4 linked regions of the Homo sapiens genome follow. The protein of the gene in region 1 interacts with the protein of each later gene in a pairwise test. Each region holds a gene or a part of one and is shown in the gene's direction. Other genes may lie near its edges.

Evidence for each region.
Region 2: the proteins of COL26A1 (region 1) and FAR1 interact in binary tests that used the Homo sapiens proteins (3 or more experiments, as listed by UniProt).
Region 3: the proteins of COL26A1 (region 1) and MT2A interact in binary tests that used the Homo sapiens proteins (3 or more experiments, as listed by UniProt).
Region 4: the proteins of COL26A1 (region 1) and AMBN interact in binary tests that used the Homo sapiens proteins (3 or more experiments, as listed by UniProt).

What each region holds. Positions count from the first base shown.
Region 1 is NC_000007.14:101,357,635-101,366,515, forward strand, and holds the start of COL26A1 (collagen alpha-1(XXVI) chain isoform 1 precursor), read left to right. Parts: upstream 1-5,240; 5' UTR 5,241-5,398; coding exon 5,399-5,556; intron 5,557-8,881.
Region 2 is NC_000011.10:13,706,047-13,714,486, forward strand, and holds part of FAR1 (fatty acyl-CoA reductase 1), read left to right. Parts: intron 1-1,853; coding exon 1,854-2,033; intron 2,034-4,646; coding exon 4,647-4,824; intron 4,825-5,717; coding exon 5,718-5,762; intron 5,763-5,881; coding exon 5,882-6,000; coding exon of another isoform or gene 6,001-6,009; intron 6,010-6,919; coding exon 6,920-6,987; intron 6,988-8,098; coding exon of another isoform or gene 8,099-8,156; intron 8,157-8,440. UniProt on the Homo sapiens protein: Catalyzes the reduction of saturated and unsaturated C16 or C18 fatty acyl-CoA to fatty alcohols. It plays an essential role in the production of ether lipids/plasmalogens which synthesis requires fatty alcohols.
Region 3 is NC_000016.10:56,604,602-56,609,997, forward strand, and holds MT2A (metallothionein-2), read left to right. Parts: upstream 1-3,982; 5' UTR 3,983-4,054; coding exon 4,055-4,082; intron 4,083-4,390; coding exon 4,391-4,456; intron 4,457-4,661; coding exon 4,662-4,753; 3' UTR 4,754-4,896; downstream 4,897-5,396. UniProt on the Homo sapiens protein: Metallothioneins have a high content of cysteine residues that bind various heavy metals; these proteins are transcriptionally regulated by both heavy metals and glucocorticoids.
Region 4 is NC_000004.12:70,587,576-70,595,951, forward strand, and holds the start of AMBN (ameloblastin precursor), read left to right. Parts: upstream 1-4,680; 5' UTR 4,681-4,783; coding exon 4,784-4,798; intron 4,799-5,751; coding exon 5,752-5,820; intron 5,821-8,376. UniProt on the Homo sapiens protein: Involved in the mineralization and structural organization of enamel.

The sequences.
Region 1 (8,881 bases):
CAGATTCTTTTTGGGGGAGGCACTGAACATCCCCTGATAACCTAAATTCTCCAAATCTTTTAGGCCTCAAGGGAGGGAAGGAGGGCGAGAGGAACGAAGCAATTCCATTAGGAGGCTGTTTACTCCTAGATGACCAACTCTGAGTTTAAGACAGAGACTTGGGACTTGGGAAGTATGGACATTCCATTTATTTATTTATTGAGACAGAGTCTTGCTCTGGAGTGCAGTGGCGAGATCTTGGCTCACTGCAACCTCCGCCTTTCAGGTCCAAGTGACTCTCCTGCCTCAGCCTCCTGAGTAGCTGGGAATTACAGGCGCCCGCCACCACGCCCAGCCAATTTTTGTATTTTTTTTTTTTTTTTTTTTAATTTTTATTTTTTTTATTGATCATTCTTGGGTGTTTCTCGCAGAGGGGGATTTGGCAGGGTCATAGGACAATAGTGGAGGGAAGGTTGGCAGATAAACAAGTGAACAAAGGTCTCTGGTTTTCCTAGGCAGAGGACCCTGCGGCCTTCCGCAGTGTTTGTGTCCCTGGGTACTTGAGATTAGGGAGTGGTGATGATTCTTAACGAGCATGCTGCCTTCAAGCATCTGTTTAACAAAGCACATCTTGCACCGCCCTTAATCCATTTAACCCTGAGTGGACACAGCACATGTTTCAGAGAGCACAGGGTTGGGGGTAAGGTCACAGATCAACAGGATCCCAAGGCAGAAGAATTTATCTTAGTACAGAACAAAATGAAAAGTCTCCCATGTCTACTTCTTTCTACACAGACACGGCAACCATCCGATTTCTCAATCTTTTCCCCACCTTTCCCCCCTTTCTATTCCACAAAACCGCCATTGTCATCCCGGCCCGTTCTCAATGAGCTGTTGGGTACACCTCCCAGACGAGGTGGTGGCTGGGCAGAGGGGCTCCTCACTTCCCAGTAGGGGTGGCCGGGCAGAGGCGCCCCTCACCTCCCGGACGGGGCGGCTGGCCAGGCGGGGGGCTGACCCCCCCACCTCCCTCCCGGACGGGGCGGCTGGCTGGGCAGAGGGGCTCCTCACTTCCCAGTAGGGGCAGCTGGGCAGAGGCGCCCCTCACCTCCCGGACAGGGCGGCTGGCCGGGCTGGGGGCTGACCCCCCCACCTCCCTCCCGGACGGGGCGGCTGGCCGGGCGGGGGGCTGACCCCCCCACCTCCCTCCCGGACGGGGCGGCTGGCTGGGCAGAGGGGCTCCTCACTTCCCAGTAGGGGCGGCCGGGCAGAGGTGCCCCTCACCTCCCGGACGGGGCGGCTGGCCGGGCGGGGGGCTGACCCCCCACCTCCCTCCCGGACGGGTCGGCTGGCCGGGCGGGGGGCTGAGCCCCCCACCTCCCTCCCAGACGGGGTGGCTGGCCTGGCAGAGGGGCTCCTCACTTCCCAGTAGGGGCGGCTGGGCAGAGGCGCCCTCACCTCCCGGACGGGGCGGCTGGCCGGGCGGGGGGCTGACCCCACCTCCCTCCAGACGGGGCGGCTGGACCGGGCGGCTGACCCCCCACCTCCTCCCGACGTGGCTGACACCCCCACCTCCCTCCCGGACGGGGTGGCTGGCCGGGCAGGGGGCTGACCCCCCCACCTCCCTCCCGGACGGGGCAGCTGGCCGGGCGGGGGGCTGACCCCCCCACCTCCCTCCCGGATGGGGCGGCTAGCCGGGCGGTGACCGCCCCCACCTCCCTCCCGGATGGGCTGACCCCCCCACCTCCCTCCGGACGGGGCGGCTGGCCGGGCCGGGGGGCTGACCCCCCCACCTCCCTCCCGGACGGGGCGGCTGCCGGGCGGAGACGCTCCTCACTTCCCAGACGGGGTGGCTGCCGGGCAGAGGGACTCCTCACTTCTCAGACGGGGCGGCTGCCGGGCGGAGGGGCTCCTCACTTCTCAGATGGGGCGGATGCTGGGCGGAGGGTCTCCTCACTTCTCAGACGGGGCGGCTGGGCAGAGACGCTCCTCACCTCCCAGACGGGGTCGCCGCCGGGTAGAGGCGCTCCTCACATCCCAGACGGGGCGGCGGGGCAGAGGCGCTCCCCACATCTCAGACGATGGGCGGCCGGGCAGAGACGCTCCTCACTTCCCAGATGGGATGGCTGCCGGGAAGAGGCGCTCCTCACTTCCTAGATGGGATGGCGGCCGGGCAGAGACGCTCCTCACTTTCCAGACTGGGCAGCCAGGCAGAGGGGCTCCTCACGTCCCAGACGATGGGCAGCCAGGCAGAGACGCTCCTTACTTCCCAGACGGGGTGGTGGCCGGGCAGAGGCTGCAATCTTGGCACTTTGGGAGGCCAAGGCAGGCGGCTGGGAGATGGAGGTTGTAGCGAGCTGAGATCACGCCACTGCACTCCAGCCTGGGCACCATTGAGCACTGAGTGAACCAGACTCCGTCTGCAATCCCGGCACCTCGGGAGGCCAAGGCTGGCGGATCACTCGCGGTTAGGAGCTGGAGACCAGCCCGGCCAACACAGCGAAACCCCGTCTCCACCAAAAAAGTATGAAAACCAGTCAGGCGTGGTGGCGCGCGCCTGCAATTGCAGGCACTCGGCAGGCTGAGGCAGGAGAATCAGGCAGGGAGGTTGCAGTGAGCCGAGATGGCAGCAGTACAGTCCAGCTTCGGCTCAGCATCAGAGGGAGACCGTGGAAAGAGAGGGAGAGGGAGACCGAGAGGAGAGGGGAGAGGGGAGAGGGGAGAGGGAGAGGCAGAGGCAGAGGCAGTACAGTCCAGCTTCGGCTCGGCATCAGAGGGAGACCGTGGAAAGAGAGGGAGAGGGAGACCGAGAGGGAGAGGGGAGAGGGGAGAGGGAGAGGCAGAGGCAGAGGCAGGGGCAGGGGCAGGGGCAGGGGCAGGGGCAGGGGCAGGGCTAGTTATCCAATTTTTGTATTTTTAGTAGAGACGGGGTTTCACCATGTTGGGCAGGCTGGTCTCGAGCTCCTGACCTTGTGATTTACCTGCCTTGGCCTCCCAAAGTGCTGGGATTACAGGCGTGAGCCACCATGCTTGGCCATCTTCCTGTCGTCTTCTAACAACAATCCTACAATCCTTCTTTGAGGGGAGAAGGACAGGCTCAGTATGTAACCCAGGCTGAAGTGTCATGGCACCATCATGGCTCACTGCAGCCTTGAACCCTTAGGCTCAAGCAATCCTCCTGCCTCAGACTCCTGAGTAGCTGGGACTACAGGCACACACCTCCACGCTTTGCTTTTTTTTTTTTTTTGTAGAGATGGGGGGGTCTCACTATGTTGTCCAAGCTGGCCTCGAACTCCTGGCCTTAAGCAATCCTCCCGCCTCAGCCTCCCAAAGCATTAGGTCTTTGTTGTTTTGTTTTTTGAGACGGAGTCTCACTCTGTCCCCCAGGCTGGAGTGCAGTGGCATGATCTCAGCTCACTGCAACCCCGGGTTCAAGCGATTCCCCTGCCTCAGCCTCCTGAGTAGCTGGGATTACAAGTGCATGCCACTACGCCCAGCTAATTTTTTCTATTTTTTTAGTAGAGACAGGGTTTCACCATGTTAGCCAGGCTGGTCTTGAACTCCTGACCTCAAGTAATCTGCCCACCTCAACTTCCCAAAGTGCTGGGATTACAGGCGTGAGCTACTGTGCCCGGCTTCCAAAGGATTAGGATTACTGAAGTGAGCCATTGCCACTGGCCTCTACAATCCTTTTGCAAAATGTGCTCCAGTCCAGCAAACACTTCCATATTTGATGGTTTTTCTCCATCCTGTAGGCATTTTACAGACAGGAGTTTTCAACTGGTCACAGGGGCAGAGCAAGCCTCAGGGCATCTGCACCCTTAGGTTGCTTTTGGAAGAATTAGGAAAAAAGCTCCCAGGCCGGGCTAGGTGGCTCACACCTGTAATCCCAGCACTTTGGGAGGCGGAGGTGGGTGAATCACCTGAGGTCAGGAGTTCGAAACCAGCCTGGCCAACATGGCGAAACCCCGTCTCTACTAAAAATACAAAAATTAACCCGAAATGGTATTGCTTGCCTGTAATCCCAGCTACTCGGGAGGCTGAGGCAGAAGAATCACTTGAACCCGGGAGGCAGAGGTTGCAGTGAGCCGAGATCGCACCACTGCACTCCAGCCTGGGTGACAGAGCGAGACTCCAACTCAAAAAAAAAAAAAAAAGAAAAAGAAAAAAAAAAAAAGGAACAAAATGCTCCTAACCCGGGCGAGTAGAGTACGGGCTGGATTTCTGGTCCCACCTGGGCCTGGAGCAGGGTCCAAGCCCTATGGGAATCCTGCAACATAGAAAAGACCAAAACTTGGGTCCAGGCTGGCCTTGGGCCCAGCATGGGATCTAGGACTCTGCTTTTCTGTTTATAAAAGGTGGGATTGTCCTACATCTTCCTGAAGCCCTTTTCTGGATAGGATGTCTCATGAATCTGTGATTCTAGCTACAACTTTTTTCTTTTTTTGAGATGGAGCCTCACCTTGTCATCCAGGCTGGAGGCCAGTGGCCTGATATTGGCTCACTGCACCCTCCGCCTCCTGAGTTCAAGTGATTGGCTTGCCTCAGCCCAGCCTGTAGTTGAGATTACAGGCACCTGCCACCACACTAGGCTAATTTTTGTATTTTTAGTAGAGACGAGGTTTCACCATGTTGGCCAGGCTGGTCTCGAACTCCTGACCTCAGGTGATCCGCCCACCTCGGCCTCCCAATCTAGCTACAACTTCTCACCCCAACTGACCCTTCCGCCCCTCCCAAAGCTTCTTACCTGGAAGAGACAGCGGGGCAGGTGGGGGCTGGAGGTTAAAGGGGAAGGAGGAGAATCCTGGGAAGCTCTGGTCAGTTTCTCACGGGAACGCAGCGCTTTGATCCAAAGAGCCCTGCACAAGGATCGGAAGACTCGCATTTGTCTGGCTTAACTTTCTCCAGCCTCAGTTTCCACTTCTGAATGGGACCATCGAGGGCAGTGTGGCGAGGATTCACCAACATCGTCCAGGTGAAATTGGCAGACACAGAATGGGCGCTCCGAAAGCATTCGCGGACCCGAAGAAGGTTTGGTTTCAAAGGTTCTAAGGTGTGTAGCGGGGGCCTGGGCGCGAGGTCTGGCTTTCGGGGTGTTAGGCTCCAGGGACCTCCTGCGGAGCTCGCACCCTAGCTCTGCCGCCACTGCCGCCTCCTCGGCCCCGGACCGCCGAGGGTTAACAAAAAAGCCCCACGCCCCCTTTGACGGCTTAGAGCCCACCTCGCCGAATTTGAAAAGGCGGCCCCGGAGAGGCGTGGGCGCCCCCCACACATTTCCAGCTCGCACCCGGGCTCCGACCGCTCGCCCCGCTCCTCTCGCTGTGCTCCCGGCCGGTGCCGCGGGTTCGGTCCGGGCGCCGGTGCGCTCCTGCCGGTCCTCGTGCCCGGGACTCCGGGTCCCCGCGGGCTGCTGCGCACGATGAAGCTGGCCCTGCTCCTGCCCTGGGCGTGTTGCTGCCTCTGCGGGTCGGCGCTGGCCACCGGCTTCCTCTATCCCTTCTCGGCCGCAGCTCTGCAGCAGCACGGCTACCCCGAGCCCGGCGCCGGCTCCCCTGGCAGCGGCTACGCGAGCCGCCGGTGAGTAGCTCGGGGCCGAGGGGCCGGGGGGTGGGGGGAGGGAGCGGACAGCGGGGGCCCTGGCCACTGGGTGGCTGGAGCGAGGCTTGGGGGCTGGAGAGCGGGGCGATCCGGGACTTGGGGGCGCAGGGCAGCGGGGACTGGGGGCTGCAGACACCGGGCAGCTGGAACGAGAGCTGGAGGGGGTTGGGGTGCGGGGCGATTCGGGCCTGGGGGCGCGGGGTGGCGGATGCCAGGGGCAGGGGACACGGGGCAACTGGGACGAAATGGCGGTGGCTGGGGGTTGGGGTCACGGGGGGAAAGACCGAAGGGCCTTGGGTGCAGGGCGATTGGGGGCTGGGGCGCGGGGCGGCGGGGGTTGGGGGCTGCAGACGGGGCAGCTGGAACGAGCGATGGAGGAGGCTGGGGGTTGGGGCCGCGGGGCTGCGGGGCTGCGGGGTTGCGGGGGCTGAAGGTTCGGGTCCGGCTCCGGGGCTGCGGTGGTCTCTGGCCGCGCCCACCCTGTCCCTTCCTTTCTTCGCTTCCCCAACCTTCGCCCCCTCGTTCCGGGCTCCGAGTAGAGGTGGTTCCGACCGCCGTGGCTGGGGCTGGGGCTCTGCCCGGGGCGTTCGGCCGCTCACGTGGCTCTGCCGCTCACCTGCGCGGCTGCGGCTTTGTGTCGCGGAGCAGGTTCTCGGGTGGCCAAGGCCTCGCGTCCCGGGCACCCCTCTCCTATCAGCGGCCCCAGGACACCAGAGGGGTCATTCCCGCCCAGTCTTTGGGGCTGAGGCCGCGGAGGATCCTCGGCTGCGACTCCCCAGCCACCCCGGGACGTGGAACCGGCTGGGATCGGGTGGCTCCGTGGCGGGGTTGGAGAGGGCGCAGGGTCACCGGGCCCGGGCGCCGGGACCCGCCAGGCGTCTCCTTCCTCTCGGCCGGCAGGTGGCGCCATGGCCACCCCCGGGACGCTCAGGGCTGCGGCTCCGGAGCCCGCATTTGAATTTCCCCAGAAAACCATAAGCATGCAAGTAAAAGTTGCCAAACGCCTCGTTTGCATAACTCGCTTGAATTTAGCTTTTCTCATTTAGTGATAACTACAACCTACACAGCTATGACAGCGCTCTGGAATGCACTACCTGTGTCTGTTCCCTCCGTCTCTTTTTTATATTTTAATTTTTTTTTTTTGCAGAGGCAGAATCTCAACTCTGTTGCCCAGGCTTGTCGCAAACTCCTGGGCTCAAGCGATCCTCCCGCCTTGGCCTCCCAATCTCCATTTCTTTTGATCCTTAACAACCCTAGGGTTAAAACATTAGAGTAGTATCTTTCCTTTAGCTGAAGAAACAGAGGCTCAGGATTTGCTAGGCCTAGGAGCCACTCAGGACTGACCTCTTGTGCTTTCTTTCTTTTTTTTTTTTTTTTAATATAGGGTCTTGCTTGCTCCCCAGGCTGGAATGCAGTGGTGCGATCATAGCTCACTGCAAACCTGATCTCCCAGGCTCAAGTGATCCCCCGACCTTGGCCTCCTGTGTAGCTGAGATCACAGGTGTACACCATCATGACTGGCTAATTTTTTGATTTTTTGTAGAGGTGGGATCTCACTGTGTTACACATGCTGGTCTCAAACTTCTGGCCTCAAGAGATCCTCCTGCCTCGGCCTCCCAAAATGCTGGGATTACAGGCGTGAGCCACCACGCCAGGCCCAGATCTGGTGTTTTCTAGCATACTGCTCTGCCTATCAAAGCTAAAAGACAGCTCCTAGTTCTTTTTTTCTCCTTGATATTTACCAAATCAGAGGACTCCAAGATGATTTCTGGCTAATTCCTTAATAACAAGGAGACAGGGATGTTTCATGCTGGGAAGAAATATACAGTCATGGCTGAATAGGGCGGGACCCAGAAAAGCATAAAAGTGCCTCTGGAAAAGTTTGTATGCAATCCTATTTCTCTCATTTTGTTTGGAAATACTTACCCGGGGCTTCTATGAGGAGCATTCTCCAAACACCCACGCTAGTGTGGCCTCTGCACAGTTCCATATGAGGATTGTCTAAAAAACAAGCTTTTCAAGTTACAGAATAATATATACAGCACGATTTCATTTATGAAAAGGAAAATCAGATCTACATCTAGGTAGATAAATGCCTGAAAAAAGTTTCTAGGAAACCATTTCAGCAGTTAATGTTATGAAGAAGTCTAGGGCTGGGCCAGGGGACTGTCCCATTTTCCCTCTGTCTGCTTGTGGCTTGTCTGAATGTTTTTCTGGTTTCTGTGTTTTTTTTGAGACAGAGTCTCGCTCTGTCTCCCAGGCTGGAGTGCAATGGTGCAATCTTGGCTTACTGCAACCTCTGCCTCCCAAGTTCAAGTGATTCTCCTGCCTCAGCCTCCCAAGTAGCTGGGATTACAGGTGCCCACCACTGCGCCTGGCTAATTTTTGTATTGTTGGCCAATAAAAAATGTAACGTTGGCCAGGCTGGTCTCAAACTCCTGGCCTCAAATGATCTGCCTGCCTCAGCCTCCCGAAGTGCTGGGATCACAGGCATGAGCCACTGTGCTTGGTCCCTAAGAGAACCTACTGGCCGGTACGGGGATTGAATGGATGTTTTGCAAGGAGCGTATATTCATGTAATACTTTTGTAATTAAAAGGTGTGGGAAGGAAAAAAAAAAAGGTGTTTGCAGCCTGAAATACGCCTGCAAAAAAGCAAGAGGTGAGGACCATGAAGAGCGGGAGCGAATGGGGACCTCATTCTGGCATTTGGTGGGTTGGAACTTGGGGACATCTGCAGAAACTTGGAAGGGATCATTTTAGCACAAACAAAAAGAGGCTCAAACAAGTGTGGAATCTTCCAGAACTCTTTCCACCAGGATAAGAACAGGGAGAGGATATAATTAGGTTTAGGGAGGATGTGGATGAATCTGTGGGCAATGGATTCCTAAAAAGGATACCAGAAGGTGTTGGGGAGGCTTGGGGCACATTGATATTCCAGAGTGTGACTGAGTCTCTTTGCCCAGAAAGCCCAGCGTGGGCATTGCAGGCACCTGGTTGTTGCCTGGGTGAGTTACAGGCTGGAGCTGGCTTGGGCGTCACATGTTTCTGTGTCTCATGAGCTATCTATCACAAGTGTCCCTTGTCCTTGAGATCCAAGATGTCCAGAAGCTGAAGGCTTGGGGACAGCAGTGGTCCTTGCAGCCTTGGCCTTCAGTAGTGTGTTTACCGGGGCTTGGCTTCAGTTGACAGGCAATGATGACAGGGCTGTTTCTTGACAAAGAGTGCTTTAATTTCATTGTTACTGCTCCTTGTTAACGTCTGATTTTTTTTTTTTTTTTTTTTTTTTTTTTTTTTTTTTTTTTT
Region 2 (8,440 bases), on another chromosome or scaffold:
TATAAGAATTTTAGAAAGTACTGAAAACTTTTTTTAAAAAATTTCCTTTGAACATTATTTTTCATTATTATAAACATAGACTTTCTAATTTTACTTTTAAAACAATATAGAAAATTTCTGTATTTCTAATTTTTTCCATAGTTATAATTTTAGTGATTTGATGATATTCCATCATGTTGACATACCACAGTTTATGTATTATTCACTTAGAATAAACTTTAAGGAATTTTAGTTTCTTTTTATTTGGAAAATGAGGATTAGAACAAGTTTTTCCTCTGAGTTAATTTCAACAGGTTAACTAGATTAATAAATATACCATTTCTGTAATTCCTGGTACTTTGTCCTAGTTTCCTTCAAATCATTTGTGTCAGTTTGTAGTATCAACAACAGTGTATTACTTTGCCATTTTTGTCACTAATATTGAGTATTTAAATCTTTTCGTTTGTTTGTTTTTATTTTTTTAATTGACAAAGGTATATATATTTTTCATTTACAACATGTTTTGAAATATGTATATATTGTAATGGTCAAATGAGCTAATTAGCATATTCATTATCTCACATACTTTTTGTGGTGAGAATACCTAAAATCCACTCTTTTTGTAATTTTTAAAAATAACAATATATTGATATTAACTATAGTCTATGTTGTACAATAGATCTCTTGGTCAGTTTTTTAAAAGCTGTAAACAGAAGTTTAATAGAAAGCAAATCTATCCACCATCTCATTACCTTAAGGAATATTTGTTGACTGCCTGTTTGGTGACTATGTTAGAAATACTGCTAAATGTTTGCAAGCTATTTGTTTAATTTTATACCAGTCTTAGTAGGTAGGTTTCATTATTGTTCCCATTTCCAGGTAAGAAAACTGAGGCCTGAGTGCTTCAGTTTATGTCCTGATAAGTAGGCCAAGTCAGGATTTGAACACAGGTCTGATTCCAGAGCCTTGTTTTTAATCCTGCTTCAAAAAAATCGTATGTATTCTTTTGGTATTATTCATACAAATGTTTCATATTTTTATAGACTTCAAATAATTATTTTAGTAGCTATATTCTTTCATTGTGATAAAATACTTACTTTATTGAGTCATTCCATATTCCATAGTGAATATTTGGGCTCTCTAGGTTTTTATTAATTACATGATGCTTCATTGATAACTTTTCTGCATATATACTTTTGCTTTTGTGGAATTATTTACTTCAAGTAAATTCCAAGAAGGGAATATATAGATTATTTTGGGGTCTTGCATATGCCTTGTAACAGATGTACCAGTTTTATTATAATATCCCTTTGAATTTTGTAGGGTAGCCTTAGAAAAGTGTTTGGATTGATTGCTACAAAGAGGAAAATAAACATCTTCTTTCTTGATTATATGTTAATATAATTTAATGTTTCTGAGTTTTCTCTGGCTGTATCACCCTTATTAGTGACTCTACGTTAACATTTTAAAATTACTTAACCATTCTATTTTTTTCTCCCTGTGGCACATCCATATTATGCAAGATTATACTTTTAAAAATCAAGATGCAAAATAAGTCTAGCATGACTTAAAAATGTATGCATAAAAGCTAAAGACTGAAATTATCTGTTTGTTCCTGGACAATTATATAATTTTTAAATTTCTACTTTAATTTTTAAGGGCTACAAGGCAGGTTATTTTATAATCAAATTTTTTTAACACAGCTGATAAACATTTAATATGGAAATAAAATACACAAAATCACAGCTAAAGGATAAGTTGTAAAGAAACAAAAATTTCTCTGTCTCTCTACTTCTCTAATGAAAATGATATTTTTAACAGGTAAAATAACATAGCTTCCCAATTTTCTATTGTCACTTTTTCTTTTTAAACAGAGATGCTGTTCAGTTAAATGTGATTGCAACGCGACAGCTTATTCTCCTTGCACAACAAATGAAGAATCTGGAAGTGTTCATGCATGTATCAACAGCATATGCCTACTGTAATCGCAAGCATATTGATGAAGTAGTCTATCCACCACCTGTGGATCCCAAGAAGCTGATTGATTCTTTAGAGTATGTTTGTTTGAAATTTATATACATTTACTTTGATCCCAAAAGAGGCCAAGGCGGGCGGATCATGAGGTCAGGAGTTCAAGAGCAGCCAGGCCAACATAGTGAAACCCCATCTCACTAAAAATACGAAAAAAATTAGCCAGGCATGGTGGCAGGCGCCTGTAGTCCCAGCTACTTAGGAGGCTGAAGCAGGAGAGTTGCTTGAATCCCAGAGGTTGCAGTGAGCCGAGATGGCGCCACTGCACTCCAACCTGGGCAACACAGTGAAACTCTGTCTCAAAAAAACAAAAAACAAAAAAAAAACCTTTGGATTCAAGTCCCTCCCTCTTCTCCTCACCCCACCCCATATACATGTGCGCGCGCGCGCGCACACACACACACACACACACACACACACATACATTTATCTCTTTTCTTCAAAAATTTTTGCATATCCCCTGCATTCTTATTGTATAGATTAATATCTAAATAAATGTTAATGAAGTCAATGTGTAGTTTTCACTTTTGACCAAGTATAATGGTAATATTTGGAGGAAGGCTCCTGAACATCTTATTAGTGATATTAGGGGCTCTCTTTTTCAGGGAATCAATCTTAGCAACCAAGAAGTACCAATGGAGACCCATGACTGCCTGTTTAATAGCAAGGCTCTAATTTATCAAAGGATTCCCCTCACCACCCCCCAGCCATGGAGTATATATATAGAGGGGCCTTTAATTATTAGAGAATCAGAGGAATCATAGTCTTTTAATTCATAACCTTACTTTTTATCTTTCTGAGGACTGAGATCCTGTCAGCAATTGTTACATGAAAATTATTTGTGAGTATTGATAGATAGGGATTAAATGAGGGAGTATATACCATGACCTTATTCTCATTTGCTGCAGCTCAGGCTTTCTCATCAAACAGACAAGGTTCAGACAAGAAAAAGAGAGATCTTTTTTACTTTTACAATTATATAAACATTCCAGTATCCACCATATTTTCATGTTTGTTAATCCTTATATAATATCTTTGAATTTTTTCCTCCTTTATTCTTCCCTCTTTTAGTCTTCTTTCTTTCCAGAGATTCTATCCACTTTGACTGCTTAGTTAACATCTGCTGCTTTCTCCTAAAATAAGCACAGTCTTTTCTTTAAGGCTTTCCTGCTAATATGAGGAAACAGATAGATTGTAAAAAAAATGAGAAATTACCAAGACATTTTCATTGTAATTCCCTAATTTCTATTTTCTCACTCATTTTCTTAGATGGTCCCAAATATCTACTTCATTTTCTTCATAGATCAATAAACAGAAATATTTAATATCTGCGGGAAAAGTTGAGTGTGAAAGTTAATGGAGCATTTTACTTTTTCTCTTACTAACAATATATACAAACATTTGAGAAACTGAAAAAGAACTTGTAAGCTAATGCTGTATCTCCTTTCCTTGCTGCAAAGAAATCTAGCTAACATAATTTTAAGATAACTCATGGGTTTGTTCTGTAAACTCGTTCTAGTAATAAGGCTTACTAGCTAAAGTTTCTCCTGAGTTTAGGCAGGTTTTTTTTTCCTCATGTATCAACTATCCCTTTCATTTTTCAAATCTCATCTCCATGGTGGAATTTTTCCTAAGTTGGGTAGCAATTTCCCTTCAATTTAATTGATGTTCTTTTCCTTTCATATACAAAAAGTACTTCCATATACAGAAGAAAATTTTATCTTGATAATCTCTGTTTTATGCTTTCTTATCAATTAGTATGGGTATCATTAGAGTATGACAATATACTGAGTCTACTTGCATACACAGCATTATTGACAAGAAGTAAAAACAAGTACATAATGTATTAGAATCAGAAGTTTAGGAAAAACCATGGACACCACCTAGTATATCGCCCTCCTTTTACAGATGAACAGAGTAGACCATTTCTTCAAAGAGAACTGGAGGAATTTTTTTGACTTCATAGTAGGTTGCTAATTGAATTTTTATAGCATGCTTCAATTTATTTTTATTGTTCATCATAGCATTTGTTAATCTCATTAGAGCATATGATTTGCAGTGCTGCACCTTAAATACTAGGCCTTTTATGCCTTTTGTGTTCATTATAAATGTATGTTAATTATAACTGTATATAATTAACATGTTACTTCATTAGGTGGTTATATACAGATCTGTATTTCCTAACCTGCAAACTTCCAGAAGGTTTCAGATATATTTTGGAATTTATTTGGACTTTAGAGAGGGTATATAATTTATGTACTGTGTAATAAGAAAAAACTTTAACTTGATCTGGGTTAGTATCCCTGATCAAATACATGTAAAATATATGAATGTTTAAGTTGTATCAAAAAAAAGACCATAAGTCAGTGTAGATCAGATTTTGCTATCCACTGTATGATTTATGAAAGAACTCTTAGTTTTCAGATCTTTTTGGATACAGAAATTGCAGATAAGGGATTGTGGACCTGTAGTTGATGTTTAAGAAAAATAAGACTAAGTTCCATTTTTCAGTAAAAGTTGTCAAATGATTTGAGTCAGAACAGCAGATATGTTTGAATGTGCGAAGTTCAATTAAGTAGCTTTTTATTTTATAGTAAAATATCTGGAAATATATTTGTATGCAATTTCTTTACCAGGTGGATGGATGATGGCCTAGTAAATGATATCACGCCAAAATTGATAGGAGACAGACCTAATACATACATATACACAAAAGCATTGGCAGAATATGTTGTACAACAAGAAGGAGCAAAACTAAATGTGGCAATTGTAAGGCCATCGATTGTTGGTGCCAGTTGGAAAGAACCTTTTCCAGTAAGTTGTTAGAAACCTTTATAAATAACTGGAGTTGAGAATTTTAAGTTGTAACTCTGTATAAAAAGAGCTGGCAGTTCTTTAAGAACAGGTATTATTTACTAAAGGTGAATTACCATGGCAAAGCTGTTTTGTGTTCATAGAGTTAATTTTATTGGTACTTTCATTTCTATAATGTGACGCTGGGTATATAGAAATGTAGATCAACATTTAAAAAATCCTAAGTGAAAATTAAAAGCTGTGACATTTTCTTAAGTCAGAGGAGATTTGGTTTGTTTCTTAGTAGCAAAAAGAGGCAGACCTTCCAGGAGGTAGACCCCTTCCTCTGTAGATCACAAAGTAAAAAAGGTACAGGGTGTTAGGGTATTTGTGAATTCCTGGAATGAGAGAAAGCAGAAATATAAACCAGTTGGGTCAATTGATTTAGGCAAAACCTAGGTCTGTGTAATGGTAGTAAGTGATAGCATCTGTTGTTGCTTTGACAATTATTCTATTTTTCTCTGTTTTATTCATAATTTTGAGGAGGATTTACCATTTTCCCTAATCTCAGGCTATTGAATTAGTAAATAGCATAAAATCAAACTTGAACAAGCTTAATTTTGTAAAAATATTCAACAATATAAACCCTCTTTTATAAATTTCTCTTTGCAGAGAGTTAATGGAAGAGTAGTAGGTAGCCCTTTGAAAATGATTTTACTCAATTATTTTTGATCCCAGAGGAAGACTGCTTCTGTTTGGGACTGGTAGAAATAGTCTGGCCTGAATCTAGTCTGTTTTTTAGTTTTTAGAAGACAGCTACCAAGTATATATTTGGGGTTGTAGAGTTCAAATAATAAATCTCTAGCTTCATAATGTTTCTAAGCTTCTCTCCCTTTTAAAATTTTTGGTATTAGGGATGGATTGATAACTTTAATGGACCAAGTGGTCTCTTTATTGCGGTAAGTAAACCTTTTGATTTATTTAATATTCTATACATTTTTCTGCTTTTTGTATATCTTTAAATATATATACACTATGGCTTATATATCTTAAGGTGTTGTTTTTAATTTCAACAAAGGCAGGGAAAGGAATTCTTCGAACAATACGTGCCTCCAACAATGCCCTTGCAGATCTTGTTCCTGTAGATGTAGTTGTCAACATGAGTCTTGCGGCAGCCTGGTATTCCGGAGTTAATAGGTATATGAGGTGACAATGTCGCTTATTAAATATATAGTAACTGAAAAGGGAAGACATAGCTTTTGAGTAATGTTAATTAATCCCTCTATCCAGATATTGCCATACCAATATTTAGGCTGTATCACTGCCAACTCCAAGAGTTGGTATTATCACAGACAATAGCAAGTGCTCCCATCAGTAGTAATGAAGAATTAATGTTAATGCTCATGTATTACTTACAGGATAGACAAGTTCACTTAAAAATGAAAAAAAAAAAAATACCCTCCCCTAAGCATGATTTTTTAATCCAAACTAAAACTTGTTGAATATATAAAGAGCTGAAATTCACAGAATATGGTTTACATATATTAAACATGGTACACCAGAGCAGCTTTAATCAGCCCATGAACATCTTTCCTTTAAAAAATAATAGTAGCATTTACAGGTAACACTTAAACTTTAAACTTCCCAATAACTTTTTTTTTCTAGGTAGTAAACTACCCTTATTTTTGATAATCAGTATTTTCTGTCCTAAAAAAAGAGAGATAGGATTATATGAATATGTTGTTTCTGGCAAAAGGAAACTTAGTCCATAATTTTTTTTCAGCTAGATCCTCTGAAAATGAGACAAGAAGAGCTGAGGTCATTTGTTGTTTTCCTCGTGTTTAAAAATAGACATTCCTGCTAATATAAGGAGGAAAAATGTGAAAGAAAAAAGTCTGTATTTTTTAAAATAAGTTATTATTTTTGGTAGGGGAAGAAGAAAGGGTAGTTGTAAATAGTCATTAAAGTAAAAACTAATCCTTTAAGGATAATTAAAAAAAAATAGTATAGAAAAGGTGCCCATCATCCTCATGTCTTCTTGAATACTATGTAGGACTTAGATTGGATATGTTTGGCCTCTTATTATGATTAATTGGTTTCATCTTTGTCTTTGCAGACCAAGAAACATCATGGTGTATAATTGTACAACAGGCAGCACTAATCCTTTCCACTGGGGTGAAGTTGGTATGATTTTACCTGTGTTTTTGAATGTTAGAATAAATCTTAAAGAACCAAGTTCCCTGAAGTTTTAATGTTAGAATACCTATGAGGCATTAAGGCCACTGAGTTACCAATTTGTTCTTAATTGTCGTCTTAGAAGTATTATCTACCAATACTACCTTGTGGTCCTTAATAATGTTTCACAAATTTAAAAATATACTGCTGTCTATTCTTACCCACCCACCCTACCCTTGTCTAAGCCTTGCTGTTTTTCTCCTGCCATCTGCAGTAGCCCTCGTAGATACCTATGGCATGGGAACAGTGCTTTTTTTCTCCCTTGTGAGCACCCTCAGTCTTGATGTTGCCTATCCATAGGCAGTATCACTTCTTACAAGAGGTGGTATATCAAGTGGTACCCAGAGTAATAAATGAAGGAGTTAGGAAGTAGGATACAGTTTGCCAGAATATTTTCTATTAACCTGTATTAATCTATTTAAATTCACAGATTCACAGCAGATATACATGTTCCTAGTTCTATAGGAATAGCATAACTTAAATAGGAATAGTTAAAACCCATTGAAATTGAGTCAATTTTAAATTGTTGGTTGATGAGTTCAAATTTAAAGTAAAATTTTTTTGGCATTGATTTAGTGATAGGTCTTATTTAACCTCTAATTGATTAATTACCCCTGCAGAACAATTTTGATTTCAATGTAGATTTTTTATGACATTTGTCCTAGGATTTTTCTGTGGCATTTTTATTTCAGTGTAAAATTGACCATTAGAGCATATAAGAAAAAGATAAAATCTAAGGTGATTTTAACTTTATGATAATTATTTTCAGTATTCTTTTAAGAATATTTAAACATTTTTAATGAGTTAGGTTTTTTTGTAATCTTTTATTGTGTTATAAAGTTTAGTAAAAGCTGAAATTGAGCGTTATATTTTAGTGACTATCTCAATATACATTTCTAGTAAAGTATTAATATAGATGATACTAGGTTTGATTATGTTGACATTACATAGCCTATATAAATTACAACAGAAGTTAATTTTGGGTTGTTTTAAGCCTGTTAATGTATGTTAATTTGAGCATCTTAAGCAAAGGATGATTATTTTCCTTTTCTTTTTTAAGTAAGTACAGTAATAAGAGTCTGGAAAGAGGAACAGAAAGGAAGAAGCTATCGTGAGAGGTGAAATATAGAAAGTGACACTGTAAACTGACATAGGTAAAACATTAAAAGGATTTTAAGAGTGAATTTTAGCAAAAATTCATTCATCTAAAATTCATAAATAGCGGCAGTTACAAAACCACTTGAGTTTAGCAGTCTAATAACCATATTCTCTTAGCTACTAGAGAGTAGAAAAGTTTGTTTTTTAAATGTACGAACTCTGACATCTTTGGTAAAATATTTTGCATTATAAAAACATGATTTTTTTTTTTCAAAACTTCATTACATGGTTATTATCAAAGCTG
Region 3 (5,396 bases), on another chromosome or scaffold:
ACCCCACCCACTGCGATTGTCCTGATTCTGCCCTTAGGACCACAGAAAGCAAGCCTAATTTCCTCTTTTCAACATGGTATAAACATGTAGGTATGAGTTCAAATCCTAGCTCTGCCACTTACAAGCTGCGTTATCCTGAACAGGTCCCATAACTCTTCAGGGCATCATCTGTAAAATGGAGATAACAGCACCTGCCTTGTAGGGCTATGTTAGGCTTTAAGATAAACTCATAGTGTTCTTAGCACAAATCTTGAATTACAGCAGGTGCTCAATATTATTCCCCATGACTACTATGGCAGATTAGACATGCTTGAAATTTGTTGACTCCTCCCTTCAAGACAGGGGGTCTTGTTCCCCTCCTCTTGAATCTGGGCAGGTTCTGTCACTGCTTGACCAATAGAATATGGTGCAAGCGACCTGTGCTAGTTTCAGGGTCCAGGGCTTAAGAGACTTGCAGCTACCACTTCCATCTCTTGAAACTCTCAACTGTATGACCTGACTCTAATTGCCCTGAGGCCACCATGCTGAAGAAGCCACATGTAGAGCTCTGGTCAACAGTTCCAGCTGAGCCCAGCCTCCAGCCATCCCTGCCAAAGTGCCAGATGTGTGACTGAAGCCATCTTAGATTCTCCAGACCAGCCCATCCACCAGCCGAACAGCACCAAGTGACCTCAGCTAATGAAACAAAAGAATCGCCCAAGTGAGCACTGCTCCAACTCCAGACCCACGAATCCAGGAAAGACAATAAGATGGTCATTGTTTTAAGCTCCTAAATTGTGGGTAATTGGTTGCATAGCTACAGATAACTGGGGCAACCATTGCCAAATATTTGAAGGTAACTGTTCACTTCCAGATTGAACCTGCCTACCTCTCTCAGCTGATGCTCACATGATAGGGTTTTGGGCCTTAGGACCCCTGTGATCAGCTGTCTTCTGGACAATGGGAGCCCAACAATGAACACAGCCTTCAGGGCAGAGGGGGGTTCTGCCCAACTATGCCAGTTAGGACTCTATCTGGAATAATTTAAGCAAAAAAGGAAATGATTGGCTCATAATGGCTTCAGGCATGGCTGGATCCAGGTGTTCCAAGATATTGTCAGGCTCCATTTCCTTTGTGATTATTTTATTTTTGGGCTCTTCTCACGGAGCCAAAAAGCTTTAGAAACTCACTCAGCTTCACATTCTCTCAGGTACAAGTCCAGATGGAAAGACTATCTGCCATTCTCCCAGCATTCCCAGCAAAAGTATCACTGATTCTCTTTGGTTGGTGGCTGTGTGGCCCAATCAGAGCCAATTACTGTGACTAGGTAGGTGGAATGGCCTAGGAGCTCACAGATGGGACATACGCCATCAAAACCATATGGACTGGTAATAAGGAGGGGTAGTTCTTCAAAGGAAAACCAAGGATATCATCACAGGGGAAGGACAAGTGGATGGCTGGGCAGCAGATCTATATATATCCACCCCTGCAGCTAAAAGGAGAATGAAAAACATAACCTCTCTCATTCTACATGGCATACCTCTCTTAATGCAGCCCAGGGTCACGTCATCACTTCACATTGATGACTCACAACAGATATTCAGGGGGATGTTTTTCCTTATCTAATATCGCTTGGTTTCACTCCCTCATCCTCTGCCAAGTCAGGGATGCAAACATGCACATGGGTCCTCCCTCTTCACCTCTGTCCCAAGCACAGTGAAGCTTCTGGGGGCATGGAGATGAACAGACTAGGCCTGTGGCCTGCTCCACCTTCCCTGAGTCATTATCCTTCTCTCCCCTCAGAGTCAAAGTGATTCAAAAGAGACAGCTCAGGCCCACAAGCAAGTTTTACCGCCAACATGGCTGGCACAAACCCAGGGCTAGAACCAATGCTTTAGGGCTAGAACCAATGCTTTTGAGGGCAAAATAAGCCCTTCTGTTTCTTCACAGAGTTGGATTGTTTGCCTTGAGTGCATAGGTGACCATCTGAGTTATTAGCAACCAGGGATTTGGTATATAATACTGTGCATACATAAATAACAACAACAAAATTGGTCCACTGCCCAGAGAGCTCTCGATCCACAGAGCTGCCAGACATCATGAGATTTCAAAAGATCTTGGCTCTAAAATCAGAGGATGTTTGGATATAAATTCTAGTACAACCCAGTCATTTGACAGATGAGTAAACCAGGGATCAGAAGAGTCCAGGCATGTAATTGCCCCAAGGTCACTGAGTAAGTGAGTGGCCGAGTGACCACTGAAATTTAGTCCATCTGAGAGCTCGCCCCCCTGCCCTGTGCGGTGTTTTTACAAGAGTGAGCACGCAGGTTCCAGGGTGGTCAAGAGGTGTTTACTTTCATTTTGTAGTCGGCCTTCATACAAGGTGGGGGCTGGGAAGGGAAGAGCAGTCCAGGCCATTACCCCCATGAATTCATTTGACAAATATTTATTAAGCGTCTACTGCAAACTTGGCCCGGTGCTGGAAGCTGAAGACACAATTCCAGAGGCAGACAATGACTGCCCTTGGCATTTCCAGTGGTCAGGGGTTGGTGAGGAGGGGCAGAGACACCAATCCAAGAGTCCCCGCAGTTTATACATACCACAGGCACGGAAAGCGCCAGGAGGGGAAAGAACAGGATGTTTACCAGCACCTTCCACAGGCAGCCACGGTCATGGGGGTCAGGACAGGGTCCCCAGAGGAAGTGACGATTCGGCTGAGCTAGAAAGACATTTCCACAGGAACTTACAGTAAGGGCTGCAAGGACAGCCTGTCCTCCCCCGCCCACCACCTCACTAAACTTTCACTGTGGCAATCGGCATTCCCTAAGCCTGCCAGGAAGCTTCCAGTAACCACTTCCTGACTCCTAGCATGACACACTTCGGGCCTTCCAAGGTTGACGATCTAAGGCCCTTACACAGCGCCAGACACGCGCAGGCAGGGAGGCAGGATGTGCCTCTCCAGACAGGAATGTGGACGCCACCTGGGCTCTTCCCCTCAGCCTCCACAGGGGAAGAATATTCTTGTGGGGTTTTTCCCTTCCAAATGTCTCAGGGCGATTCCAGTGTTCCCGCTAGTTCCTCCCTCCCAGGCTAGAACACAAATCCTTCCCACTCCCTGCCTGGCAAACACCTTCTGACCCTCAGGCCCAAGGCAATGGCCCACCTCCTCCCAGGCTGGATGGGGTCTCCTCCTCTCTGTTCCCCCAGCCCCTGAGCTTCCTGAGGACCAAGCTTGTGGCTTCTTCTCCTTACTCTTCCTCCTTGGTGTCTCTATGTTAGAGGGCCGTTAGCATCTGCTGGGGCCTGGTCGCATTCACCCTGCTCTGCCACTCACTGGCTGTGTGACTCTGGACAAATTAACTTCTCTGGACCTGCAGTTTCTCCTCTCTACAATGAGAATACTGGAGAGTCCTTATCTTATGGGTTGCTACAGAATTAAGTGACATCTCACACACAACACACTTCCTACAGTCCCTGTTACACGCTAAAAGTACTCAACATGCAACGGATACGTCATCAGTAACCACCCCACGGGTTTACTGTGATGCTGCACAATTATTAAGCCTTGGCTGCTACAGAGTTGTAACCTGTCTGCACTTCCAACCGGTTTGGGAATGCAAGCAGCATTCCCAAGTCCCGCTTTCACCCGCGCGCTAACGGCTCAGGTTCGAGTACAGGACAGGAGGGAGGGGAGCTGTGCACACGGCGGAGGCGCACGGCGTGGGCACCCAGCACCCGGTACACTGTGTCCTCCCGCTGCACCCAGCCCCTTCCGCGCCGAGGCGTCCCCGAGGCGCAAGTGGGCCGCCTTCAGGGAACTGACCGCCCGCGGCCCGTGTGCAGAGCCGGGTGCGCCCGGCCCAGTGCGCGCGGCCGGGTGTTTCGCCTGGAGCCGCAAGTGACTCAGCGCGGGGCGTGTGCAGGCAGCGCCCGGCCGGGGCGGGGCTTTTGCACTCGTCCCGGCTCTTTCTAGCTATAAACACTGCTTGCCGCGCTGCACTCCACCACGCCTCCTCCAAGTCCCAGCGAACCCGCGTGCAACCTGTCCCGACTCTAGCCGCCTCTTCAGCTCGCCATGGATCCCAACTGCTCCTGCGCCGCCGGTAAGAGGCTGGGGATGCCCAGTGTAGACTGTAGCGCTAGAGAAGCAATTTCTGACCCCTCTTTCTTTCTCTGGTCACTCAATTTCAGGACAGGAGTTGCTCCTTCCCAAAGAGTTTTGGGGTATCTTTCTCTCCATTCTAGGTTATTCGGAGCCCCCTTTTTACCGTTAAGGAGATCTGAGTTAATGGCTTGCTCAAGTTCCCAGGAATCGGTTGTGGACTGAGGAACTCGGCCCCGGGCTCTTAGTACGCCGTCCCTTGTTCAGGTATCCAGGGACGGTTCTCACCTCTGTCTTTTCTCCTTGCAGGTGACTCCTGCACCTGCGCCGGCTCCTGCAAATGCAAAGAGTGCAAATGCACCTCCTGCAAGAAAAGTAAGTGGGATCCTCTCTTTCCTCTACCCCTTCCCTGTCCTCCAGCCTGTCCCCTCTCCACCATCCTCAGGGGAATTAAAGCAGTCTGGGGATGCCCCATTGCGCGGAAATTGTTGCCTCCTCAGTGATCCTTATCAGGGAGAGCAGGAATCCTTATTCCCGGTGTCGCTAGTACTCATCTCTGCCGCCTCCTGTCTGCCCCCAGGCTGCTGCTCCTGCTGCCCTGTGGGCTGTGCCAAGTGTGCCCAGGGCTGCATCTGCAAAGGGGCGTCGGACAAGTGCAGCTGCTGCGCCTGATGCTGGGACAGCCCCGCTCCCAGATGTAAAGAACGCGACTTCCACAAACCTGGATTTTTTATGTACAACCCTGACCGTGACCGTTTGCTATATTCCTTTTTCTATGAAATAATGTGAATGATAATAAAACAGCTTTGACTTGATTCTGTCTCTGGTTTCCTTTATATGCCTTAAAAATAACGGACTGGGGTGAGGGATTGAACTGGGAGGGCAGAGACCTGGGCTGTGGATGGAAATGTGAGCCGTTAAGAAAGAGTGCATTCTGGCAAGCCAGGCTACTGCACTGAGCTTCAGCTTCTGTAAAACTGAATGGCGCTGTGCCAGATCATATGGGAGCAGGAGGGACACATACATGATCACTTTCAGTTTCACGTCAAATGTGGCACAGAAACTTCTCCATTCCTCACTTTTACTTTCAATTTCCCTGCCCAACTTCAGTTCTTCGTGGGATTTTAGACTTGAAAGTGACTACAGAGGGTGAAATCCAACTCCCCAGTGGCTGGAATCTGACATCCGGTTTCCCAAACTCCCTGTGGGGAATGACCAGTTTTGTTTTGTTTTGTTTTGTTCTCCATTAGTCACAGACCTAAACTCTGGTAAAATAAGGAGTTAATAAGAAAATGAAAGTTTAAAAGACACAAAA
Region 4 (8,376 bases), on another chromosome or scaffold:
TGTAAACAGGCAAGAAAAAAGTCTAGACAAAACCCTCATGTTCATTGCAGCATTATTTACAAAAGCCAAGATATGGAAATGACCCAAATGTCCACCAACAGATAAATGGATGAAGAAAATGGGAAATATACATACAATGGAATATTATTCAGCCTTAGAAAGAAGAAAGTCCTGCCATTTGTGACAACGTGGATGAACCCAGAAGACATTATGCCAGGTGAAATAAGCCAGTCACAAAAGGACAGACACTGCATGATTCCACTTACATGAGGTATCTAAAATAGCCAGACTCACAGAAGCAAAGAATAGTGGTTGCCAGAGGCTGGGGGGAGGGAGAAATGGAGAATTGTTCTTCAATGAGTATAAAATTTCTGTTATGCAAGATGAATAAGTTCTAGAGATCTGCTGTACAATATGCCCATAGTTAACAATACTATATTGTGCACTTAAAAATCTGTTAAGAGGACAGATTTCTTGTTCAATGTTCTTACTACTTAATAAAAAAGCACACATACAAAAGAACACAAGGAAATTTTTGGAGGTAATGCATATGTTTATTACCTTAGTTGTAATGCTGATATCAAGGGTATATGCGTATGTCTAAACTCATCAAGATGTATACATTAAATATGTGCAATTATTGTATATCAATTATACCTCAATAAAGCTGAGAAAGTATTTTAATATGAAGCAGATTTTTAGCCTTCATATTTCATTTCCACAAGAATGATAATAACTCATGATCACTGAACATTTCTTGGCTACCAGCTAGTGTGCTAAGCACCTTATATTTCGTATTTAAATTAAATTAATGCTGACCTACGGTAGACCACATTTCACAGATAAAAATGTTATATGAGCTTGGGCACAGTGGCTCATGCCTGTAATCCCAGCACATTGGGAGGCCGAGGTGGGTGGATCACCTGAGGTCAGCAGTTCGTGACCAGCCAGGCCAACATGGTGAAACCTCGTCTCTACTAAAAATACAAAAAATTAGCTGGGCATGGTGGTGGATGCCTGTAATCTCAGCTACTCGACAGCCTGAGACAGAAGACTCACTTGAACCCAGGAGGTGAAGGTTGCAGTGAGCCAAGACTCTGTCTCTCTCTCTCTCTCTCTCTCTCTCTCTCTCTATATATATATATATAATGTGTATATATATAAAACATATGTATATATACACACATATATACATATAGAAAACATACTATATATACACATATATAAAATATATACACATACATATATACATATATAACATATATGTATATATGTTATGTATGTATGTATATGTTATATATGTATATATGTTATATATGTATGTATATATACACATATATAAAATATGTGTATATATAATATATAAAATATACTATATATACATGTATATATAAAATATATATACATTTATACATATATACATATATAACATATATACATATATAAAATGTATATATACATATATATGCATATATACATACATATATACATATATATAAAATATATGTGTATGTGTATATATATATAAAATATATGTATTTATATAAAGTGAAAACATGGAGGCCAGGTGCAGTGGCTCATGCCTGTAATCCCAACACTTTGGGAGGCCAAGGTGGGCAGATCGCTTGAGGCTAGGAGTTACAGACCAGCCTGCCCAACATGGTGAAACCCTGTCTCTACTAAAAATACAAAAATTATCTGGGTATGGCGGCGCGTGCCCTTAGTCCCAGCTACTCAGGAGGCTGAGGCATGAGAATTGCAGGAACCTGGGAAGCGGAGGTTGCAGTGAGCCAAGATCGTGCCACTGCATTCCAGCCTGGATGACAGAGTGAGACTCCGTCTCAAAAAACTTTAAAAAAAAAAACTACATGAAGATTATATAGTGGCTCATTCAATGTCATATGACCAGTGAGTATTACAGAGGGGATTTAAACAGCTGTGCTCTCAACCACTTTACTAACATATTCTGCCAGATCTTGTTGCTCTAAATTTTTCATTGTAACTTTTTCTATGGCCTATGTCTCTTCATGTGTCTCACATCTTTTGTCACTTTGAGATTTTTTTTTATTTTGCTGTACTCCAGACACAAGTATTTTCTTATAACTGACTCTCTGATTCTTCTTCATACAGGTATGGTCTTGGCCAACATAACATGGTTTCCATCAGCTATGGTAATTTCCTTATATCTATAATCACTGTCAGAAACTCATTCATACATTCATACTAATTTCCAGATTTCATTGTAATAGAAAATTTTTTGTAGGATATATTAGTATTACATTTACCAACTTTCCCAGTAACATACATCCCATAAAATCTGACAAAAAACTGTTTATTAGCTGAAAAAATGAAACCAACTCCAATTGATTACAATCATTATTACAATATGAATACACACTGTCTCATGCAAAGTGGGAAACAAGATTGGAAAGAGGAACTGAAATGTTCAATTGACTGTCTAGTTACAGAGGGTGAACTTTATGACAGCCTTAGAGATCCTTACATAGTTTTTGAGTGGGGCAGTGAAATGCCAAAACCAGTATTTTAGGAAGATAAGTCTAGTGTTGGTGTGCAGGATATTGGAGGAGAAATAAACTACCAGATAAACATCTGGAAGTCAGTAAGCCAGAATGGAGTGTGACATTTAAAAAAGGAAGAAGCAACAGTGTGTATGATATATTGGATATTTGGCTCAAAAGCAAAGCAGAACATAAGAATCCTACCAAAACATCATTATTAGTGTGTCATGATCACGCTTATAAACTTTACAAGACACACACATACACACTATTTGCCAGTTTTTTAGCCAACTAGGAAGCTCGTTCCTATGGATTCAGCATCAACTTCCACAGAGAAAATGTCCTCCATCAGGTCCCTCCTCTACCTCCTTGGAGCTTATGAACCTAGCTGCCAGCACTCCTCCTCCTCCAGCACACACACACACACACACACACACACACACACACACACAGTTCTTGTGGTCTCATATTTCATGTAGTTTCTCCTACCAAAAGGACAATCAACTCATTCATTCAGCACCCAATAAATGGCAGCTGCTGCATCTTCACCATCTCACCAATCTTTAAGACAAGCTCAGGCTGGGCGTGGTGGCTCACGCCTGTAATCCCAGCACTTTGGGATGCCAACACAGGAGGATCACCTGAGGTCGGTAGTTTCAGACCAACCTGGCCAACATGGGGAAACCCTGTCTCTACTAAAAATACAAAAAAAGTTAGCCGGGCATGGTGGCGCAGGCCTGTAATCGTAGCTGCTCAGGAGGCTGAGGCAGTAGAGTCGCCTGAACCCAGGAGGCGGAGGTTGTAGTGAGCTGAGATCACACCACTGCACTCCAGCCTGGGCAACACAGCGAGACTCCGTCTCAAAAAAAAAAAAGACTAGCTTGTGGTCATTAATTATTATCCTTACATAACAGAAGAAGGAACTGGGGCTCAAAAGAGATTAAGGGACTGCATCAAGCACCAGAGACAGCATGAAAAATAATACTTTTCATTTCAATAACATTTTGCTGTTTGCAAAACACATTCACATTCTTCATTTCTTTGCATCCTAAAGATAATTCTGGTATCAGTGGAACACAGAGGTTTTCAGGAGCAGCTTCTAAGATAACATTATTTGAAGCTGTTAGGCCTACATTTGGGTATGGATACAGCTTTCTCTCAAAATACCAGCTTCCTCAATGTTCCCTGTAATTGACAAGATCCCTACTTCCCTAAAGAGTGTACTGACTCATCCCTTCTTCAGAACTAATCTTAAATGCTTATCCCTACCATATCTGAAATCACAACTTTGGAAAGACAAGGATGGGCAGAGAAGTAACAAAAGCAGCTAATATTCAATCCACATCCAAGATATTATCTGTTCACGGAGAAAAACCAATCTGTGTTGACGTTAACCTTTTAAGTGATCGAAATATGTCTTATTAACCTGGCTTGATACTAATGCCTGGGAATGTGTCTATCTGAAGAGTGAACTGACACTTGTGCCCATTGATTTGGTTCATAGAGAATGTTCTGATTTACGTCCCCGTCCCCACAGATTTTTTTTAAAATGCACCAAACGTTTACCTGAAGTAAACCTGATTCTTGCAAAGGGTCCAACTGTAGTTTCTTACAAAAGCTTGGCTATCTCTAATCAATTATCTCCAGATATGAAAATATCTAGGAAATTCAAGGAAGAAATCACACACATTAATTTTCCATCTAACATTTTAGTGTTTTCTTTTAAACTCTGTGTGTGCTGGGGGGAAGGACAGTAGTCTCTTTTACTACAACAAACAGGAGGGTGAAAACCTGAAGAATGCTAGCATTGGGTCACTAGCTTTATCTGCAGATAAAACCTGCACAAAACAGGTTTTGTTTTGCACCTATTTTACATATATTTTCCCCAGCTCACCAAAATAATTGTCTTCAGAGCCTATGTCCATTATTCCTTTACTGCCTTCCCTGCTATCAAGTTCTCTGAATAAGTACAGGGGCTGCAGTACAATTAAAAATAATGAGACCCTACTGGGCCAATGTCCCTGCACGCAATAAAAGGGTGTGGACTAATTGCAGGAGCAGAGATTCCCGCCCCAACTCCCCCCCGCCACCCCTCGCCATTTTGCTTCACTTTGATTGGTGGATTGGCACTTTAAATAAAGGTTTCTAATCTTCCCTGAATGAGAAGTACAGAGCAAGTCCCACGCACAGTCCTGAAAAAAATTTTAATCTTCTTTTCTTAGAACTATCTTGGTTGGCATCATCAGGCCCTGAGAGCACAGTGCATGTCAGCATCTAAGGTAAAATGGGATTTTATGATTTCCATGTGTTTCCTGTAAATTCTTTTTTTCCTATCTCCTGACAGCTTTTATAAAGAGGATTTATCTTCATTTGTCACCAGTAGCTGAATTATTGCTTGTTGTAATCCATTAGCATGTCCCAGAGATGACATGCCTAACACCCATTCAACTAAGAAAAAAAAAAAGACTTTTATTTATAGATTGTGTTTTTTTTAATGTTTTTGATTATAGTGCCTAATTCTTTTTAATATTAGAAGATGAGTAAATTTCTAGGCTATTCAGATCTCTATTCATGTAAGAATAAAGAGCTTTTTGAATTTATAGAATAAATTTTAAAAGATAATTCATTTTAGGAAGAGGAAAGCTAAATTTGAGACATATTTTCCACTAACATCAAAGAAAATTAAGATAGCCAATTTACTCTCATTTGAAAAGAAAAATTTTGTCATGGTTACGTAGATTACCTAAACATGCAATGATGTACCCTCTATTCCTGCAAATAAAGGTTTGTTATAAAATGACTTAGTTGCATTACATTTCACATGCATTTCAAAATGTGTCCCAAAGGGTAAGCAAAGTATAAACTTCTGTGAATAATACCTTATAGACCAATATTTTACTTAGTGGGAAGGATTTTTAAACTCATAATTCACTTTATGAAATGAAATATATCACAAAGAATATCGATGGAGGTTGTTCCTACATACTTATTTAGGCTGTAGATCCATTTAAAACGTGCTTAGATATTTTTTAATTGCTTGTTAATTTATTTCAGAAACTACTACATACAAATCGGTTGTTTAGTAACATTTAGTTTTTGTTTTTGTTCTTCTAACCTTTATCCCGGTGGTTTTTGTAAGAGCAGAGACTCAGGCTCATTTTCAAAAATTGTCTTTTAACCATTCTGAATAAAAATTCATCTGATTTAATTCTCCAACTTAATTATGTTTTAGATTCCACTTTTCAAAATGAAGGACCTGATACTGATCCTATGCCTCCTGGAAATGAGTTTTGCAGTGCCGGTAAGTCAGTCTTTAGAGTGTGTCCCAGAAAAGGTTATTGATTGTCGAACTCCAAACAACACTGAAGGGATATGGACTGAGAGTCCACGCATAGACTCACTTGATTTAATCCAGTGGTTTAGTCCTATTGAGTCAAAAGCCATAGTTGCTCAGATGTCAGTCTTGCAATCCAAAAGCGGTAAGTGATAGCCGGGTGCGGTGGCTCACGCCTGTAATCCCAGCACTTTGGGAGGTTGAGGCAGGAGGATGACCTGAGGTGAGGAGCTTGAGACCAGCCTAGCCAACATGGCTAAACCCTGTCTCTACTAAAAATACAAAAATTAGCCAGGCGTGGTGGTGGGCACCTGTAATCCCAGCTACTTGGGAGGCTGAGGCAGGAGAATTGCTTGAACCTGGGAGGCGGAGGTTGCAGTAAGCCAAGATTGTGCCACTACACTCCAGCCTGGGTGACGGAGTGAGACTCCATTTAAAAAAAAAAAAAAAAAGCAGTAAGTGAAGTATGATATTTCTACTAAAAAGTTATTTAAAATAGTCCCAAGACAATTTCTAGATCTTATTCCACTCATTCAAAGTTAAAAGCTTAGATAGTCTCCACAATGCATGGCGAAATTTTATTATCAACTTATTGCTATCATTATAAAGTTGAAATGGAAAGAGGAAATTTCTTTGAAAAAAATACATTTTCTTCATTTCAAAAAGAACTATCTCTAAATTTCTATGGTTACAAAACTCAGCTAGATAATTCCATTTAAAGCTAGTAATTAACTAGCAAATTTACCTTGTAAACATGAAATTGTGTGACTGAGAGCTGAAGTTTCATAAATCAAAACATATCATAGTGATGGGGCTAATTGTGTATTACAGTCCCACACCTGATCCATTCTAGTATATATTGAAATGATCTCATACAAACACAATCTTTTGAACACTGAACTACTCCAGCCAACAGCATGCAATTCTGTTATCACAAAAACTTTATTTGGCTGCTATATGCATTTAGCAAATATGTTGAGCAGCTGCCATGCATCCAGTAAATAAGACATGGAAAAATGAAAGTAAATAAGACATGATCTCTTGTCTCCAGTAGCTCACAGTTGGCCTCAAATGAACTTTAGAGTATTTTAATTCCTTGAAAGAAAAGGTTAGCTACTTGGTCTTCTTAAAGTGTTTTAGAGAAAGAGAATGGAAATGGAGAAAGAGGTTGAAAACTGATTATAATGATGAAAACCTTAATTCCACAAATAAAAATAGTCTCTGTTCCATCACGCAAGATGAATTTTAAATGAAAGAAAAATTGAGGGTGCCACCCTAGCTTACCTTTATATGATACTGACGTTGGGATGAGCCTCAGTCATTCACTATCAGTCTAACACATTGGCATTCTTTGAACCTATAATGATCCACACCTGAATCAATTGGGTCCACTCTGAGGAACAGAACAATTGCTTATTATTGCCAACTCATTGCCTGTCAAATCAGATGTTCTTCTCCTATTAATTCTGCATGGGAAATGTATCCCCTATCTGTATACATTCGTGTAAATATTCTTTAAGTCATGACTTAGAGCAGATGGAAAGCAAAGTACACTTTGTTCTGTGGCTCAATCCAGGATGTGTTATTTATGCACTGGCAAATAGTGGGGAAGAAGGTCCTGCTCTCACGATTCCCCCAAATTCTCAACAAGCTAACCACCACATACACACATACATGCACAATCACTCTTCCTGTCTACACAGCTAACCTCTTTCCTACCCAGAGTATTTGCTACACATTTGTAATGCCTTTCCCTCTATTCTTTTTTTTTTTTTTTTTTTTACAGTCTGGCTCTGTTGCCCGGGCTGGAGTGCAATGCTGAGATCTCAGCTCACTGCCACCTCCTCCTTCTGGGTTCAAGCGATTCTCCTGCCTCAGCCTCCCAAGTAGCTGGGATTACAGGCACGTGTCACCACGCCCAGCTAATTTTTGTATTTTTGTAGAGACGCGGTTTCGCCATGTTGGCCAGGCTGATCTCAAATTCCTGACCTCATGATTTGCCCACCTCAGCCTCCCAAAGTTCCGGGATTAGTCTTGAGCCACCATGCCTGGCCCTTTCCCTCTATTCTTGTCCAAAACTGAATTATTTAAAGAAATTCTCACTATGACCCAGAAGGTGGGATTTTACTTACATGAAAAAGGTGGTGGGTGGAAAAAGTAGGGGGTGTAATTCTTTAACTTCTTACTCATAAAGGAAAAATAATACTGATATATTTGGTAAACATTCCCTAAATCCTTGTGGTATAACTGAAGGAAAGACGGCATTACAACCCCTTGGTCTTAGAAAGTGAGAATATCCAAAGAACCAGAGACTCTCAAAATCCAATTTACTCTAATTCCTACTCTTCCATTCGCCATGTTTTCTACCGGTATTTGTGTAAAGTAATAAGGATTGGTTTCAAAAGAAAAATATATTTAACAAAAAAACAAAAAACAAAAGGAAAAGGCTAGGCATGGTGGCTCATGCCTATCATCCTGGCACTTTGGGAGGCCAAGGCAGGAGGATTACTTGAGCTCAGGAGT